Linked DNA regions of Homo sapiens: region 1 is linked to region 2. Evidence: fine-mapped expression QTL. Tissue or cell type: minor salivary gland. Region 2 holds a variant in brackets; the other region holds the start of a gene. All regions are shown on one strand. Distances are between the middles of the regions.

Region 1 (8,093 bases), 520 kb after region 2:
CGCACGCTGCCTGCACTGGCTCACCTGGCAGGCATCCTGCCCCGGGACGCCGCCTGCACACACCATGTTGCTCGTGATTCTCCCGGGATACACACCATGGCAGGTGGCATGGGAGACGATGGAGAGGTTGAGGCACTGGAGCAGATCCGGGAATGGGTCTGGAGAGAGAACATGCGTGCTGCAGGGTCCCCTAAATCTCCCCACTTTGAGGCCACGTCCCTCTTCCCTGGATGTGGCCCATCCATGTCAATACCCCTGCCCCTCACCGACCTGTACTACAATCCCGAAACCTCCAAGTTACATATTTATGACTTAATTTCATATGAATCATGACCCCAGATGATTGACGGTCTCTTTGATCTTTGACATTTGACTTTGAGTGGCATAACTCAAGAACTTTCTTGTCTCTCCAGCGTCAGAGACAACGAATCCAGACCTGACCCTCTTCAATGCCAGCTACTGTGATCTTTGACCTTCTGTCTTATTACCTTATGATCCCAGCTTGATCTCATATCTTCTGTCTCCTGACCCCATGTCCCTGTCTTTACCTTAACCTCCAACCTCAGCTCTGCATCTTCCAAACCTCACTGCTTCCAACGCCAGTGTCCCCTGATCCTAGTTTATTGGGCCCCAGCCTCCATGACCCCAAACTTCGGGCCCCACACCCCAAACGCTATGACCTCCAATCTCAGATATGTGATTTTGGATAGAATCCCAATTTCCATCCTCAGATTTTGACCAGATTGTACAACCTCTGGATCCCATGACCTTAATTCTACGGTGACCTCTAACCCCAGACCCATGACCCACAATGCCCATATCCTATACATACATATATATATATATATGCCTTTTGCTCCAGTGTGATGACCTCTGACACACTCTGACCTCTGACCTCTGATCCCTGACTTCATACCCAGTCCTTTAACCCCTTTGGCTCCCAAGACCCCAATCCACCATAATCTCTGACCCCAAACCATGATCCTGATGTCCCATCCCACACCCTGACCCTTTACCCATCCTTCCTCTGAGGTGTCATGATTCGACCTCTCGCCCTGCATCCCAGACTTGTACCCATCCTGACCCCTGACCCCTGGCCCTGGGCCCCTTACTCCGTGGGTGGTTGGTGATGCCCCAGCCTGAGACGTGGCACTCGGTGCCAGCGGTTGCACAGTCATTGGGCAGGGGCAGGGGTTGAACGCTGCTGGTTACGCGGACGGGCAGGCGCAGCCGCAGCAGCCGGAGGTCGTGCTCGTGGCTCGTCGAGGCTCCCAGGTAGCCGGGATGGGTCACAGAGAAGCCGCTGTGCCGGATCTGCTCGGTCCAGTCGAGCTGGCTGAGGCTGTGTTCCCCCAGGCGCACCCAGTACCTGCTGCCGGTGGCGACGGCTGAGCGGGTGGCAGGCACGCAGTCCCCCACCTTGCACCCCTCCACGGACACTCAGGCGCTCCTGCCGCTCCCCACTGTTCTGCCCCTCACTGTCTGTCCTCTCACCCGCAACTCTCATTCTCCGAGTCTCTCTTACAGGCTCTTATTCCCAACCTCCATCACCCTCTTTCCATCTTGGGTGTTCCCTGTTTCTCCTACCATGTCCCTGCATCTGTGTCTCTCTCTCTCCTTTTTTTTTTTTTTTTTTTTTTCAAGACCGAGTCTCGCTCTGTCGCCCAGGCTGGAGTGCAGTGGCACCATCTTGGCTCACTACAACCTCCACCTCCCAGGTTCAAGCAATTCACCTGCCTCAGCCTCCCAAGTAGCTGGGATTACAGAAGCATGCCACCATGCCCAGCTAATTTTTGTATTTTTAGTAGAGATAAGGTTTCACCATGTGTGTCAGGCTGGTCTCAAACTCCTGACCTCAAGTGATCCGCCCGCCTCGGCCTCCCAAAGTGCTGGGATTACAGGTGTGAGCCACCGCGCCAGGCCTCTCTTTCTGATTCTCTCGGCTGGTGAAGCCCATGAAGGCAGGGACATCAGTGGACCTTGTTCACTGCCTTATTCCCACCGCCTGGCACGGAGCATGTGCCCTCCATGCTCATGCGTGGACGAGTGGGTTCATGATTGAACGAGTGGGTTGATGAATGGCCTCTCTGCATCCTGCTGCTGGCCCTCTCTCTCCCTGAGTCTCTGTTTCTTTGCATCTGATCTCCCCTTTCACAAAAAAAGTTCCAGGCCAGGCACAGTGGCTCATGCCTGTAATCCCAGCACTTTGGGAGGTCAAGGCAGGAAGATTGCTTGAGCTGAGGAGTTTGAGACCAGCCTGGGTAACATAGCAAAACCCTGTCTCTACAAAAAAAATTTAAAAATTAGCCAGGTGTGGTGGCGCAGGCCTGTAGTCTTAGCTCCTTGGGAGGCTGAGGTGTGAGGATCACTTGAGCCCAGGTGGTTGAGGCTGTAGTGAGCCAAGATAGCATCACTGCACTCCAGCTTGGATGACAGAAAGAGCAAGACTCTGTCTCCAAAAAAAAAAAAAAAGAAAGAAAAAGAAAAAAATTCCAGAACATCAGTCTACTGAGGCCCAGAGAGGTGCCAGGCATAGATTCTGAAGTTGCACAAAGAGTTTGGGTCATGTTGGCCGGGTGCAGTGGCTCACACCTGTAATCCCAGCACTTTGGGAGGCCAAGACGGGCAGGTCATTTGAGGCCAGGAGTTCGAGACCAGCCTGGCCAACATGGCAAAACCCTGTCTCTACAAAAAATACAAAAATTAGCTGGGCATGGTGGCGGGTGCCTGTAATCCCAGCTACTCAGGAGGCTGGGGCAGGAGAATCACTTGAACCTGGGAGGCAGAGACAGCAGTGAGCTGTGATCACGCCATTGCACAGCAGCCTGGGCGACAGAGCGAGACCCTGTCTCAAAAAAATAAAAAAAAGAAAAAGAAAAAGAGCTTGGGTGAGACCTGGGCCCCGGGCCCAGACTGGGTCAAGGAATGGCTGGGGTGAGTGGCAGATGTCATATAGGAAAGAAAGGGTACATGCAGGAATGGGAGAGGCAGGAGGGCAGGTTCCAGGACCCTCCCCGGCCCTCCACCCAACATACCTCACCCTGCCCAGCACCACCCCAGGCCCACTGCTAAGGAAGTTCCACTCCTGGTCTAACCTCAGACTCTCTTGTTGCAGGATCAGCTTCTTCCCAGTGGGCACCACCCTCCCTTGTGATCCTACCCCCAGCGCTTGCCTTCCCATAGTCCTCCCTTCGCCCACCCCAGGAAGGGACTTACCTGCCGCTGCAGTGAGCCGCTGTGAGGACCCACCTGTGGTCAATAAGGACACCCCCGCAGCGCAGGCTGGTGCCCTCAAACAGCCCCACCTGCCACGGCTGTGAGTTACGCCCACACTCAGTGCCATTGAAAATCTTCGGTGTGGCTGCCTGGCTGAGCCCTGGAGACAGACAGGGGCATGGGTCAGAGAGAGGAAGAAAAGATACAGAGATGGAGAGACACACAGAGTGAGAGAGAGAAACAGGCAGGAGAGAGAGAGGAGAAAGAGAGACGAGAAAGAGAGAGAAAGAGAGAGAGACCCAGTGATAGAAAAAGACCATGAAACATCAAAGACACCCAGGGAGAAAGATGCTTACACATAGGAGGGAAATGGAGAGACAGAGATTCAGAGAGGGACAGAAGGGAAGAGGGATCAAAAAATAGGGGAGACCGAGGTGAGCAGTACCCTGAGAGCTGCAGGTAAATGGAGGCACAGAGAAAGCCCCTCTCCTCCTCACCACCAGGCTGGGGGCCAGAGCTGAGATGGGGAGGGTGGTGGGGCCTCCTCATGGGGGTGAAGGGATCCAGTCGCAGTCCTGCCCTCTCCCTGCTCCGGGAGAACTCACCAAGAACACACAGGAGCAAAAAGATGCTGAGCCCCATGGTGGGTCACTTCCAAAGTCTGGGGGAAAAGGGGAATCTCAGAGGTCACCCTTTCCCTGTGCCCCCCACCTCTGCCCTCTCTGCTTCTCTTTGAAGGTCACCAAGGGGATGACCTGCTTGTCCTCTCTCTACCTGCTCCCCTGTGTGTCACTCCCTCATTGGCAGTCGCCTACCTCCTTCTCACCTTGTCTCTTTGTCTGCCAGATCCTCTACGTGGCTGTCACTGTTTGGCCTGTCCTCGTCGCTGCTATCTCTCCGTCCACCTACCTGCCTGTCTTCTCATGTGCTGGCCACTCCGCCAGCCAACTCTACCACTCTGCACCTGGCTCCTCAGCCACCTGTCATGTTGCTCAACCGGTCCCTTTCCTTCCATCTGTCGCTCCAGACAGACCACTGACAAAGCTCTTAACTCTCTTTGTCCTGGCCCATCCAGTTTCCGGGTTAAGGGAAGGGGACCACGAAGACAGGGGTGGGGCGTGCTCTAATTCTGCAGAAACTCTTCTCAGCTAATCACACTTAATTGAGCTTTACAGCTAAACGGAGTGGGGAAGGAGGAAAGGACCCAGGGTGGGAAGACCCAGCCCCACTCCCTCTCTCCTCTGCAAGCCCGTCAGCAGCCCCAGGACTGATGACTCAAGGTGACTAGGGAGCTGGGTTCTAATCCTGACTCCAGTGACAAAGGAGGGTGGGGAGACCTTGGACACCTGGGGCCCATCCCCATGCAGTGCAGGGGAGGGGCAGGGGGAAGGAGAGGCTGTGAAAGCAGGAGAGTGGACGGGAGGGGCAGGAAGCCCAAGCTAGAAAGAGTCCCAGAAAGAGAAGAAGAGTTGAAGGAACAGACTTCCAAATAGGTGATCAGGCAGGGGTAGAAGAGAGTTTCTGAACTGAGTTCATATATGTACATATGAAGTGGATCAATCTAATTCCATAAAGTTTTTCTTTGCTAAGAACTTCTATTGCTTAAATAAAACCCACAGAGAGAAAAAAAAAAGACACAGGGAAGGAGAAATGGTAGAAAGAGAGAGAGAGAATGAGTCACAGGACAAGGGAACTTTGTGCTGTTTTTTGTTTTTCGTTTTGAGATGGAGTCTCGCTCTGTCACCCAGGCTGGAGTGCAGGGCTGTGATCTCCGCTCACTGCAACCTCCACCTCTTGAGTACCTGGGATTACAGGCACGTGCCACCATGTCCGGCTAATTTTTGTATTTTTAGTAGAGACGGGGTTTCACCATGTGGGCCAGGCTGGTCTTGAACTCCTGGCCTCAAGCAACCTGCCTGCCTTGGCTTCCCAAAGTGCCGGGATTACAGGTGTGAGCCACCATACCTGGCCTCTGTGCTGGTTTATCTGAGTTTTTGCTTCATCTAGGAGGAATGGAAGGAGAGAAAGAAGGAGAGAGAGAGGGGACAGAGAGAGAAAATGAGAACAAAAAGGGAATTCGGCTCAGAGGAAGGGGGATTGAGAAACAAACCAAGAGAAAAGCAGTCAGGGCCAGGCGCGGTGGCTCACGCCTGTAATCCCAACACTTTGGGAGGCCGAGGCGGGCAAGTCACTTGACGCCAGGAGTTCAAGACCAGCCTGGTCAATATGGTGAAACCCCATCTCTACTAAAAATACAAAAATTAGCTGAGTGTGGTGGTGCATGCCTGTAATCCCAGCTGCTCGGGAGGCTGAGGCAGGAGAATCCCTTGAACGTGGGAGGCGGAGCTTGCAGTGAGCCGAGATTGTGCCACCGCACTCCAGCCTGGGCGGCAGAGCAAGACTCCATCTCAAAAAAAAAAAAAAAAAAAAGAAAGAAAAAGAAAAAAAAGAAAAGCGGTCAGACAGAGCGCACAAACAAACAAAAAAACCCAGAACAAAACAGAGGAGAGCAAACTCCCACCCTATGACTGTCTTTTAGTCCTTCACTTTCTCTCTGGGTCTCCAGTCTCTGTCCGTGTCTCATTTTCAGAATCACAGAACCTTAGCTTTTGATTTGCTCTTAGAAACGACCTAACTGCTTTAACTCATCATTGGTCAGCGCGACTGGCGTTGATAACGCTGGTCCCTACAAAGCCTCCTGCTGGCTGTTAAGAGCTTTCCTTCTTTGGGCAGAGAGGATAAAAAAGCACCATGACTGTCCTTTCTCTGGAAAGGACACACGTCACACGCTCACAGCACAAAAACGCCACTTCTTCCTTTTTCTGGTGTCAAGTTTTACAATAAACCTCAACTGAATAAGCAAAGAAACAAAAACAAAAATACCAACAACTACCCAACTCAACCTCTCTCTCTTTTTTTTTTTCTGTGTAGATTTTTAAGAGAATCAGGTTTACTGATGTGGAATTTATATCCAATAAAATTGAATACAAAAAATAAGGCGGGCTCGCTGATTTTAAGGAGCATTCATGCAAATTAAAAATACCATGTATATAGTTAGTAACAATGTATTGTGTACTTGAAAATTACTGACCGAGTAGGGTTTAAGTGTTCTCACTACAAGTAAATATAAGTATGGGGCCGGGCATGGTGGCTCGTGGCTATAATCCTAGCACTTTGGGAGGTTGAGATGGGAGGATGGATTGAGGCCAGGAGTTAGAGGCCAGCCTGGGTAACATAGTGAGACCCTGTTTCTACAAACAAAAACTAAAAAAATTAACCAGGCATTATGGTGACACAGGCCTGTAGTCCTAGTTATGTGGGAGGCTGAGGTGGGAGGATCACTTGACCCCAGGAGTTTGAGGCTGCAGTGAGTTATGATTGTGCCACTGCACTCCAGCCTGGGCACTCCAGCCTGCACTCCCGTCTCAAAAAAAAAAAAAAAAAAAAAAAAGACCAGCATGGGCAACATAGTGAGACCTCATCTCCACAAAAAGTAAAAAAAAGTTAGCCTGGGGGAGGGGCATACCTGTGGTCCCAGCTACTTGGCAGGCTGAGGTGGGAGGATCGCTTGAGCCCAGGAGGTGGAGGCTGCAGTGAACCATGGTCACACCACTGCACTCTAGTCTGGGTCACAGAGCAAGACCCTGTCTCTCTATAAAAAAAAATAATAATAACTTTTATTAAAAAATAAAATAAAATAAATTTGTAGATGAGGAATATTTTGCCTCCAGAACTCAACGAGGCCTAAAATGTTTTGGGTTTGTTTTAATGCTGTGGGTGCTAAGAGACTCAATAGCTGTTTCCTGGCAGTGTCTCAGCTGGAGGGGTCCTCACTTTACCAAATGATTTTCAGAAATTTAACCAAGGTGGGGCCGGGCGTGGTGACTCACGTCTGTAATCCCAGCACTAGGCCGAGGTGGGCAGATCACTTGAGACCAGGAGTTCGAGACAAGCCTGGTCAACATGGTGGACCCTCGTCTCTACTAAAAATACAAAAATTAGCCAGTTGTGGTGGTGGGCACCTGTAATTCCAGCTACTCCAGAGGCTGAGGCAGGAGAATCACTTGAACCTGGGAGGCAGAGGTTGCAGTGAGCCGAGATCGAGCCACTGCACTCCAGCCTGGGTGACAGAGTGAGACTCCGTCTCAAAAAAAAAAAAAAAGAAAAAAAAGAAAAAGATATTCAACCAAGGTGGGAGGCCTCATACTCTGTGTGGGGCACTGGCCCATCCCATTGTGTGAGTTCCTCTAGAGTATTTGTGAATCTAGAATTAGCGTATCCTATGGGCTTCCTTTGGACAAGGGTGTTTGTCACCATATGACGTCATGCCTGTGCTTTTGGAGAAACGTGGATGGAGCTGGGGTGTTGCCTGTGTTGCATGTCAGAACGTGATAGCCCAGAGTCTGGAACTTCAGCATGCTGAGTGCTTTGAGCTGAAGGAGATTGGAAGACCTCAGGAACAAGAGGTTCTCTCCAACCTCCTCCTGCTTTCCTCTCCTCTCCCCTTACTTCTCCTTTGAAGCAGTCACAGACACTAGAATTCCTTTTCCCCTGAAGACCCTCATGTGACAGGTGTCCTGCAGAGGAAGAAATGCAACACAGAAAGGCCCAGAAGAATCTGAACAAATGGGACCTGCTGGGATCCCCCCTCAATTTATGACCAAGAGATCATACCTGTTTTTTGGTTTTTGTTTGTTTGTTGAGTTGGTTGGGTTTTTTTGAGATGGAGTCTCGCTCTGTTGCCCAGGCTGAAGTGCGGTGGCACAATCTCGGCTCACTGCAACCTCCGCCTCCTGGGTTCAAGCAATTCTTCTGCCTCAGCCTACTGAGTAGCTGGAATTACAGGCACCTGCCACCACACCCAGCTAATTTTTGTA
Region 2 (8,093 bases):
CTACCTCCTCCTGTCCCACCACACGGCGGCCAGGCCCAGCCCCTGCAGAGCGGCCATGATCACATTGACATCATAGTTGCCGGTGCCCAGGAGGCTGCGATGAGGGTTCAGCCGGGAGTCTGGGGCCAACCTGGTAGTGGGGGTGGCCAGAGCTGAGGTGGGGACCCCTGGAAAGGCCTCCCCACAAAATGGGGGTCCCAGGGGCCACAAGTTGCCTCAGCCTTTGACTCTCCCCGCTTCAGACCCCACAACTCATCCACCCCCAAGTCCTGCCTCTCCTGCCCCAATTCTGCCCTGTCCCCAAGTCCTGTCTCTCCTGCCCTGACTCTGCCCTGTCCCCAAGTCCTGCCTCTCCTGCCCCGACTCTGCCCTGTCCCCAAGTCCTGCCTCTCCTGCCCCAACTCTGCCCTGTCCCCAAGTCCTGTCTCTCCTGCCCTGACTCTGCCCTGTCCCCAAGTCCTGTCTCTCCTGCCCTGACTCTGCCCTGTCCCCAAGGCCCCAGATGGGCTCTGTCTTCTCCCGCAGCCTCCAGCCTCCCTCCAGTCCATTCCCACACGGCCCTGGCCCTCTCCTGCTCTCAGCTCTCCCATGGCTCCCCAATGCCTTGGACAAAGTCCCTGTCCCTCCGCCAGTCCCTTCCTCTGTCCTTCAAGGCCCACCTCAGATGTCACGTCCTCTGAGAGGAGCCTCCTGACCTCCAGGCTGGATCGGGGCCCTGTCTGGGCTCCCCCAGTGAACTGAGCCACCTCAACGATGACAGCTGCCCGCATCACCCTGATTTAACACTGCTTGCTTCTCCCACGGGGTTGCCCTCACCCCTCCCCTGCTCACAGCCCACTCTGCTGCCTCATTTCCCCCAGGACAGAGTCCCACAAGGCCCTGCGTGGTCTGGCTCTGGTGGCCTCACCTCAGAGCCTCAGCACCCTCCTTCCTGGTCCCCTGTCCCCAGCCACATCCCCGGTGCCCACCGCCTCCCGCCCCACCCCCGCCAACCTTTCCTCCAGCTCTTCCCCTGCCTAGGAAGGCTCTTCCGCCTGTCACCACTTGTCTCTGGGCCCTGCCTCTGAACAGCTGCACCTCTGTTCCCTATCTGGACCCTGGGCAGGCAGGACATGGGAGGAAAACGCTCGTGTGTGTGTGTGTGTGTGTGTGTGTGTGTGTGTGTGTGTGTTTCCCTCACCACCCTTAGGCTGGCACTTGTGTCTGAGTCATCTCAGGGTCTCCAGCATGGCTTTTGTATGAAAGAGCTGATGGGTCCTTGTTGCGAATGATAGAGGAGATGACTAAATACCATAATAATCAGTCTGAGGGGCTGGGACTCTTAAGATGTCCGAGAGCCGGAGGAGGCTTGGAGCAAGAGGCAGGGGAGGCAGGGCCATCTCCAGGTGTAGAAAGACTCTCTAGGATCAAGTGGGGACTGAAGGCAGGGACAGACTGGAGGCCATGGGCAGGCTGGGCAGGAGAGGGTCAGGCCTGAGCTGGGGCCAGGGACATGGGGACAGAGAGGAGGGAGTGAGAGATGGTAAAGGAGTGATTTTTTTTTTTTTTTTTTTTGAGACAGTCTTGCTCTGTTGCCCGGCTCACTGAAACCTCTGTCTCCCAGCTTCAAGCAATTCTCCCACCTTAGCCTCCAGAGTAGCTGGGACTACAGACATGTGCCACCACGCCCAGCTAATTTTATTTTTTATTTATTTTTATTTTTTAGTAGAGACGGGGTTTCGCCCTGTTGGCCAGGCTGGTCTGGAATTCCTGACCTCAAGTGATCCACCCGCCTCAGCCTCCCAAAGTGTTGGGATTACAGGTGTGAGCCACTGCGCCCGGCCAAAGAGTGATGTTGGACATTGTGAATAGTGAAGAGGAACATTCCATGCTGGCAGAGAAGGAAGCCATGCCGGGCAGAAAGAAGTACCTGGAAGCCCAGAGGCCGCACAGAAGGGCTCACGGGAGTGGAGAGTCTGGTTTGAGGGGGGCCGTGAGGGCTGAAGATGCGGAGGCAGGCTCGGCCTCCGCTATGAGGAGGGCCCTGAGTAGGGCGGGGGCGTGTTTAGGATGGACTGGAGAGCTGTGACAGGGCCCAGATAAGAGATGCCTGAAGCTGGGTGAGCCTGTAATCCCAGCTACTGGGGAGGCTGAGGTGGGAGGATCACTTAAGCTCAGGAGTTCAAGACCAGCCAGACCTTGTCTCTAAAGAAAGAACCACTGGGCCGGGTGCAGTGGCTCACGCCTGTAATCCTAGCACTTTGGGAGGCCGAGGCGGGTGGATCACGAGGTCAGGAGATTGAGACCATCCCGGCTAACATGGTGAAACCCCGTCTCTACTAAAAATACAAAAAATTAGCCGGGCGTGGTGGCGGGTGCCTGTAGTCCCAGCTACTCGGGAGGCTGAGGCAGGAGAATGGCATGAACCCGGGAGGCCGAGCTCGCAGTGAGCGAGATCGCGCAACTGCACTCCAGCCTGGGCAACAGAGTGAGACTCAGTCTCAAAAAAAAAAAAAAAAGAAAGAACCACTGGATTGAGGTCTGGCTGGGGCTGAGGCCACAGGGACAGACAGGCACAGGAGGCAACATCTCCCCAGAGTCCCAGCGTCTAGCTTAGGCAAGTGAGCGCGGAGCAGAAGAAAGCCCCCAAGGCTCAGCGCCTGCCTGGCGGCGAGACCCAGGTGGGTCACTCCGCCAGAGCTCTGCTGCTCCAGGGGCTGGGGTGGGTGACGGTCACCTCTTGCAGATCTCATCGGCAGCCTCCTGGCTAAAGAGCTGCTGCTGCAGAACGTTGTTGAGGGCGTGGACAGCACACAGCTCCAGGCGCTGCCGTTCGTGGTACACGGTGGGTGGGCTCGGCTGTGCTCCCGGGGCCTGGGACATGCCGTCCTCGGCTCCTGCTGGGGGTTGGGAGGGGGAGAAGGTCCTCAGGGGCCCGGGATCTAGAGGTCCAGCCTCCCAGCAGGCCTTTGGGGCATCGCCATTGATTGAGCTGGGACTCGGAGCAGCCCAGGAAGACACTGGGCCCCTGACCCCGCTCCCTGGCAGTCTCCTGGCAGCACACGTCCCTCCATCCCTTATTCCTATTCCTACGAAAAACGCTGTCTCTTCTGCTCCCCTAGCAACAGAAAACCACCCTCACCAGGTCTCTAAGTAAAAGGGTCCCTATCATGGTCACCTAGCAACAGAGGAACCTGCCTCCCCGTCCCTAGGTAACCAGGGCGCTCTGTGGTTACCTAGCAACAAAGCCCCCTCCCCACCGCACTAGGTAACAAAGTCTGTCCTCCGAGCACCTAGCAATAGAGAATCCTCCTCCCCTGTCTCTAGGTGATAGGGTCCCCTCTGGTCTCCTAGCAACAGAAGACTCCCCTTCCCCGGTCATGTAGCAGCGAGGCTCTCTGCTCTTGTCACCTGGCAACGGGGCCCCCTCCCCAGTCACTAAGCAACAGGAGTTCCTCTTCCTATCACCCAGCAACCAGGCCCCCTCCCCGGACACCAAGGAATGGAGCCCTTCGCCGACCCGCACCCCAGCCACGGCGCTCGCCCTTTGCCTGGCAACGCCCCTCACCCCGCCTGCCTCTCCGCTCCACCGAGCCAGGGGTTTCCGCATCCCCTTCCTGGGCGGCGGCTCTGGGCTCCGAGTGCGGGGCGGGCAACACCGCGCTGACTGGGCAGGCGGGACGGACTACAGCTCCCGGTGATCCCCGCGCGCCGGACTACGACTCCCGTGGGGCCCCGCGGGACTCCTGCTCCACACGGAACGCCCGGGCCGCGTGGCCCTGAAGTCGGCCGTCGGGCCTAGGAAATGCCGCACTACAACTTCCGTCGGGCTCCGCGGCAGGTCCCGGAAGTGCGCCTCAGAGGCCCTTCTTTCGCATACGGCCGCGCCCACTACTGCTCAGAGATTCTAGGAAACTTAGTAGGTAGGCTCTCGCGATAGCTTCCTGGCGCCGCGCTCTCATGGGTGCTCGCCCCCGGCGATGGCGTCATGCGCGGTGCGCAGACGCAGCGTGACGTCACACAAGGGAAAGGGATCAGAGACGCCAGGCGGTGCGGGGGGAGGCAGCGGTGATCTTTACTGAGTCAGAAGGGAGACCCTGGGGAAGTGGGGCAGGGCAGGGGTGGGATGGTGGTGGTGAGAGGCCAGGCAGATGATCTTGTCTCGGGAGGGAGGAGGCTTCTCAGCAGAGATGGATCCCCGGCCTGGAGGGGAGCTGGCAGCAGGCTGCGGGGAGAGGGGAATGAGCGAATGAGACAGAGGAGAGATGAGGAGACAGACGCCTGGGGGAGGCAGTGGTGGGAGGAGGGGACAGGGCAGGGGGGCGGTGGAGGAAGACCCGGAGAGAGCGGGACAGAGCCCTGGGGGTGGACAGAGACAGAGAGAGTCTCGATCAGAGGCGGGCACAAATGGAGACATCTACAGTGCCAGGATTCAAAGTCATGGAGAGAGGTTAAGGAAATAAAGGTCAGAAAGAAAGAAAGGTCAACAAATACAGAACCAGAACTGCAGAACTAGTGAGAGCCCGGG[AC/A]CCCCAAGCTCTGCAGAACACAGGAGCCCAGGGCCGGGGGAGAGGGGCCTGGCCGCACCCAGGAGGCTCTGCCAGAAGGCCGTGACGGTGGCGGAGCCGGTGACCGCGCCTGGCTCGGCAGGGTTCTCTCTGCGGGTGTGCACAGCAAAGCTTCGGCCCGTGGGGCCCCGGGGTCCGCTCAGCTCTACATCCACCACGTGCATGTCCGTGAGGCTGGGACAAGAGGGGCAGTCAGTCTGGAGAGCCTGGACTCAGCCCAACACCCTGCTTAGCTCTGCTCACCTGGTATCAGCCACGAGCACCCCAATCACCCCATCGAAGCCCAGGCTGGGGGCAGCCAGGGCAGCCGCCGCCATGGTGTTGGAATTTCGCGGGGCAAAGGGGCAGAGCCCACGGACAGGGCCTTCGTAGAGCACAGTGCAAGGCCCAGGGCTGTGGGCTGCAGCCAGGGGTCCCTCAAGCCGGAAGCCATCGGGGTGTGTGGCCATGGTGACACGAAGGCTCTGGAAGCAAGAGCCCGGGTTAGGGGGAGTGGGGTCTTTGCAGGCCTCCCCTGGTTCCTGGGGAGCCCAGCAGGCCTCACCCGGAGGCCCCCAGCTGCATCCAATCTCCTGATGTCCTCAGCGCCCCACAGGGCCCCTCGGGCCACAAACACGGCGTGGTCCCAGTGCTGTGAGGCCTCCAAGAGCTGCCGCTCTGTGGTCTGGTCACTTAGAGCTGAGGGGGACCCCACCTGGGGTGGATGAAGGAGGGGAGGGTTGAGGTCAGGGAAGGATATCCACTTCAGGGTGGGGTGAGACCAAGACAGAAGGGGCAGGGCTCTGCGTAAATGGTTGGGGTGGGGCTTACCAGGAGATTGGCATGGCGCAGGATTTGTGCCCCAGATTCATGGATTATTTTGGGATGGGCCACTTCCACAACCAGATCAGGGCGCCTGGGAGAGGGGAAAGAGGGCGGAGGGTCTTGGAGAGGTATTAGGCCTCTTCTCCCCAAGGTTCCCTCCGAGTCTACTGAGGGCTGCCCTTCTTCTCCCTGACCTGGGAGGCGAAATGAGATGAATGGGTTCGTCCTGTTTCACATTTGCTTGAACCAAGGCCCAGAGAGGGTCAGGGAACCCCTGAGATCACACAGTGGCTAAGAGAGCCAGGACAGGAGCTTCAGGGAGCTCCACTCTCCCATGGCAAGGTCACTGACCTTTCCCCAAGGGCAGCAAGGTTCTGGAGCTGCAGGGAAGGGGGCACGCTCCCTGCCATTCGTCCTGGGTCACGATTCCAGACAAAAACAAGTTCTAGGCCAAGTTCTGGTCCCTGAGCCAAGAGGCGGGAGACGAGGGACTGTCCTGGGGAGAGGGAAAGGAGAGGGCTAGAGATCCAGAGAGAGGGGGACAGAGACCCAGAGAGAGAGGAGGTGGGGACAGAGACCCAGAGAGAGAGGAGGTGGGGACAGACTCAGATTGCGGGGTAGGGAGACAGAGATGGGGGCAGGGCAGAGACACAGTGGGGTGGACAGAGGCCCAGAGAGAAGGGAGACAGAGACGGAGAGGACAGAGACCTGGGGTGGGGGTGCAGTGGGCAGACCCAGAGACACAGCCAGGGGCAGATAGAGAGAGAAAAAAGTGTTTGTGGAGGGCAGAGAGTCTTGGGAGCTTTAGGAAGGGGTTTGGGGAAGGAGGCCAAGGATGGTCAGGGACTCACCGAGGCGGCCATAGCCCACCACGCCCACCCTCCACGGGCCCCTGTCGGCCATGGCCCTGAGTGCGGTGTCTGGGGCCTGGCTCCCTGGGCTGCTCGCTGCCCGCTGCACAAGGCCTGGGCAGCCGCTGCTCTTTGGACATCTGACCCTTGAGCCTCTGGGCTCAGTCTTCCCCCTTCCCCGCAGGCCCAGCGTGGGGGCGTGGGCCTGCGGGAGTGGAGGCGGGAGAACCCTTCCCTGTGCTCTGTCCACTTTCCCGGGTCCAGCACAGTGAGCATGGTGACCGGGGGTTCTGGGAACCCTGCGTGCCCCCCTTTCCCCTGCAGCACACCCTCTTTCTCCCTGCTGATGTGGAAAGTTTCCTCTGCAGTCCCCTGCCCCCTCTCTGGCCGGCCAGGTTGTCATGGAAACTGCATCTTGCTTTGGGTTGGGAGAAGAGATGGTGACAGGGACTCTGGGCTCTGTCTGTCCCCTCGTGCTCACCTCTCCTCCTTGTCCTCAGGCGGCTAAGGTCTGAGGGAGGCTTCAGCCTGGCCGTGGCCCTAGCCCTCCCAGAGGCAGCGGGAGCCCTGGTTGTGGCTTCTCCTCAATGTGCCCTTGCCTCAGCGGGTCCAACCTCCCTAGCCCCGCTGCGCAGCACGGGTCCCCTTCCCACAGCCTCCGCCCCTGTCCACAGCCTCCCTCCGCTCTGATCATCCTTCAGTTCACCTTGACTTGCTACCTTTCACTCTGTCCCCCATCGTGCCACCAGCTGCCTCCAGTGTGACGTTCTCGCTCCCACGTCCGTCCCTCCCGTTCCCCAGCTCGCGTCAGCCCAGGAGAAGCCTTCGAGGCCTGGAGAGGCCAAGTGCCCCCAACATGAGCCCCAGCCTCTGTGCCTTGAGGGTGCCTGGCATCGGAAATGGCGCAGGCTGCGGCAGCGCAGGCTCCCTGCCCCCAGCCACCACCTGGTACCCGCTGCAGTGTTTCCATGGCAACCAGGATTGGCGCTGGAAGGAGGCTGGAGAGAAAGAGAGCGTGAACGGGAGCATGGGGTGGGGGGGGCGGGCACTGGGTGGCGAGAGCCCCAAGTTGACGGGAGGAGAGAGGAGACAGACGCGGGCAGACAGAGAGGGGCCAAGACCCCGACGTGGCACCCAAAGGCTGCCGCTGCTGATAAGGGAGGAATTGGCTTCCAGAGCCAGGAGCCCCCGGTGTGGGAGAGATGAGATGCCTGGGTGTAGACAGAGCCAGGAAGGGGGCAGGGGCCAGGCACCTCACGGAAGTGGGGGGCCTCCCGCCATCTCTACCTTCTGACTCCTGCTGGGGCCTGAGTGTCCCCATAGTGCCCATAGCTGCCGTGTACGGGGTACAGCCTGGGCCACTACGAGGGGAGAAGGGGGCTGGGCGCAGGCCTGTGTGTCCTCAGGGCTGTGTCCCCGAAGCCACCTCAGCGTGGGAAAGCACTGGAAGGCCCTGCATGGCTCCGTCCCTCCCTCTGCCTCCCCCAGCAGCGTGAGATGGCAGCCCTGGCCAGCCCCAGCCCTCCAGGGCCTGCAACTCGGGCACCTTGACCCCCCAAGAGACATCACCACCCCCTCCCCCAACCCACCCAACAGCTGCCCACTGTGCCAGCAACCCCCCAGCCAGGCCCGCTCAGGGTTTGCTCCCTGCCCTCCCAGGGCTCTGCTCCTGCCCTTCTGAGTGGCACTGTGGTGCCCCTGCCGCCCCAGGCCCACCCGATCCGGCCCTCCAGCCTCCCACTGAACCGGCCAGAAATACAGCTGCTGTGCCCCAGAGGCCGCAGGCCCAGCCTCCCGCTTGGCCTCCCTCCCCTTCGGCACCCCGTCCTCTGGAGCAGCCTTGAGGGGGTCTGCAGTGGAGAGACACACTCTGGATTGGGCCCTGTTGTGG

Evidence for each region. PIP is the estimated chance that this variant, and not a neighbour inherited with it, causes the effect.
Region 1: KLK12 starts here. The variant in region 2 is fine-mapped to the expression of KLK12 in minor salivary gland (GTEx, PIP 0.98).

Annotation. Positions count from the first base shown.
Region 1 is chr19:51,030,764-51,038,856 of GRCh38, forward strand. KLK12 (kallikrein related peptidase 12) reads right to left here and starts at 4,239. Exons shown (of 6, transcript NM_001370125.1): 1 at 4,043-4,239; 2 at 3,822-3,877; 3 at 3,217-3,376; 4 at 1,113-1,372; 5 at 25-158. The coding sequence starts at 3,858. RefSeq lists an enhancer at 7,353-7,853.
Region 2 is chr19:50,507,570-50,515,662 of GRCh38, forward strand. It overlaps JOSD2 (Josephin domain containing 2), which reads right to left and starts at 3,622. Exons shown (of 5, transcript NM_001270639.2): 1 at 3,548-3,622; 2 at 2,717-2,879; 3 at 5-130. The coding sequence starts at 2,862. It overlaps ASPDH (aspartate dehydrogenase domain containing), which reads right to left and starts at 6,344. Exons shown (of 7, transcript NM_001114598.2): 1 at 6,203-6,344; 2 at 5,703-5,847; 3 at 5,358-5,442; 4 at 5,092-5,241; 5 at 4,791-5,011; 6 at 4,567-4,721; 7 at 4,034-4,204. The coding sequence starts at 6,254. The coding sequence ends at 4,161. LOC124904747 (a long non-coding RNA gene) reads left to right here and starts at 3,849. Exons shown (of 3, transcript XR_007067300.1): 1 at 3,849-3,902. RefSeq lists enhancers at 2,295-2,802, 2,803-3,309, 3,804-3,923, 4,227-4,816 and a silencer at 3,474-3,603. The variant AC/A (reference allele first, on the strand shown) is at 4,508.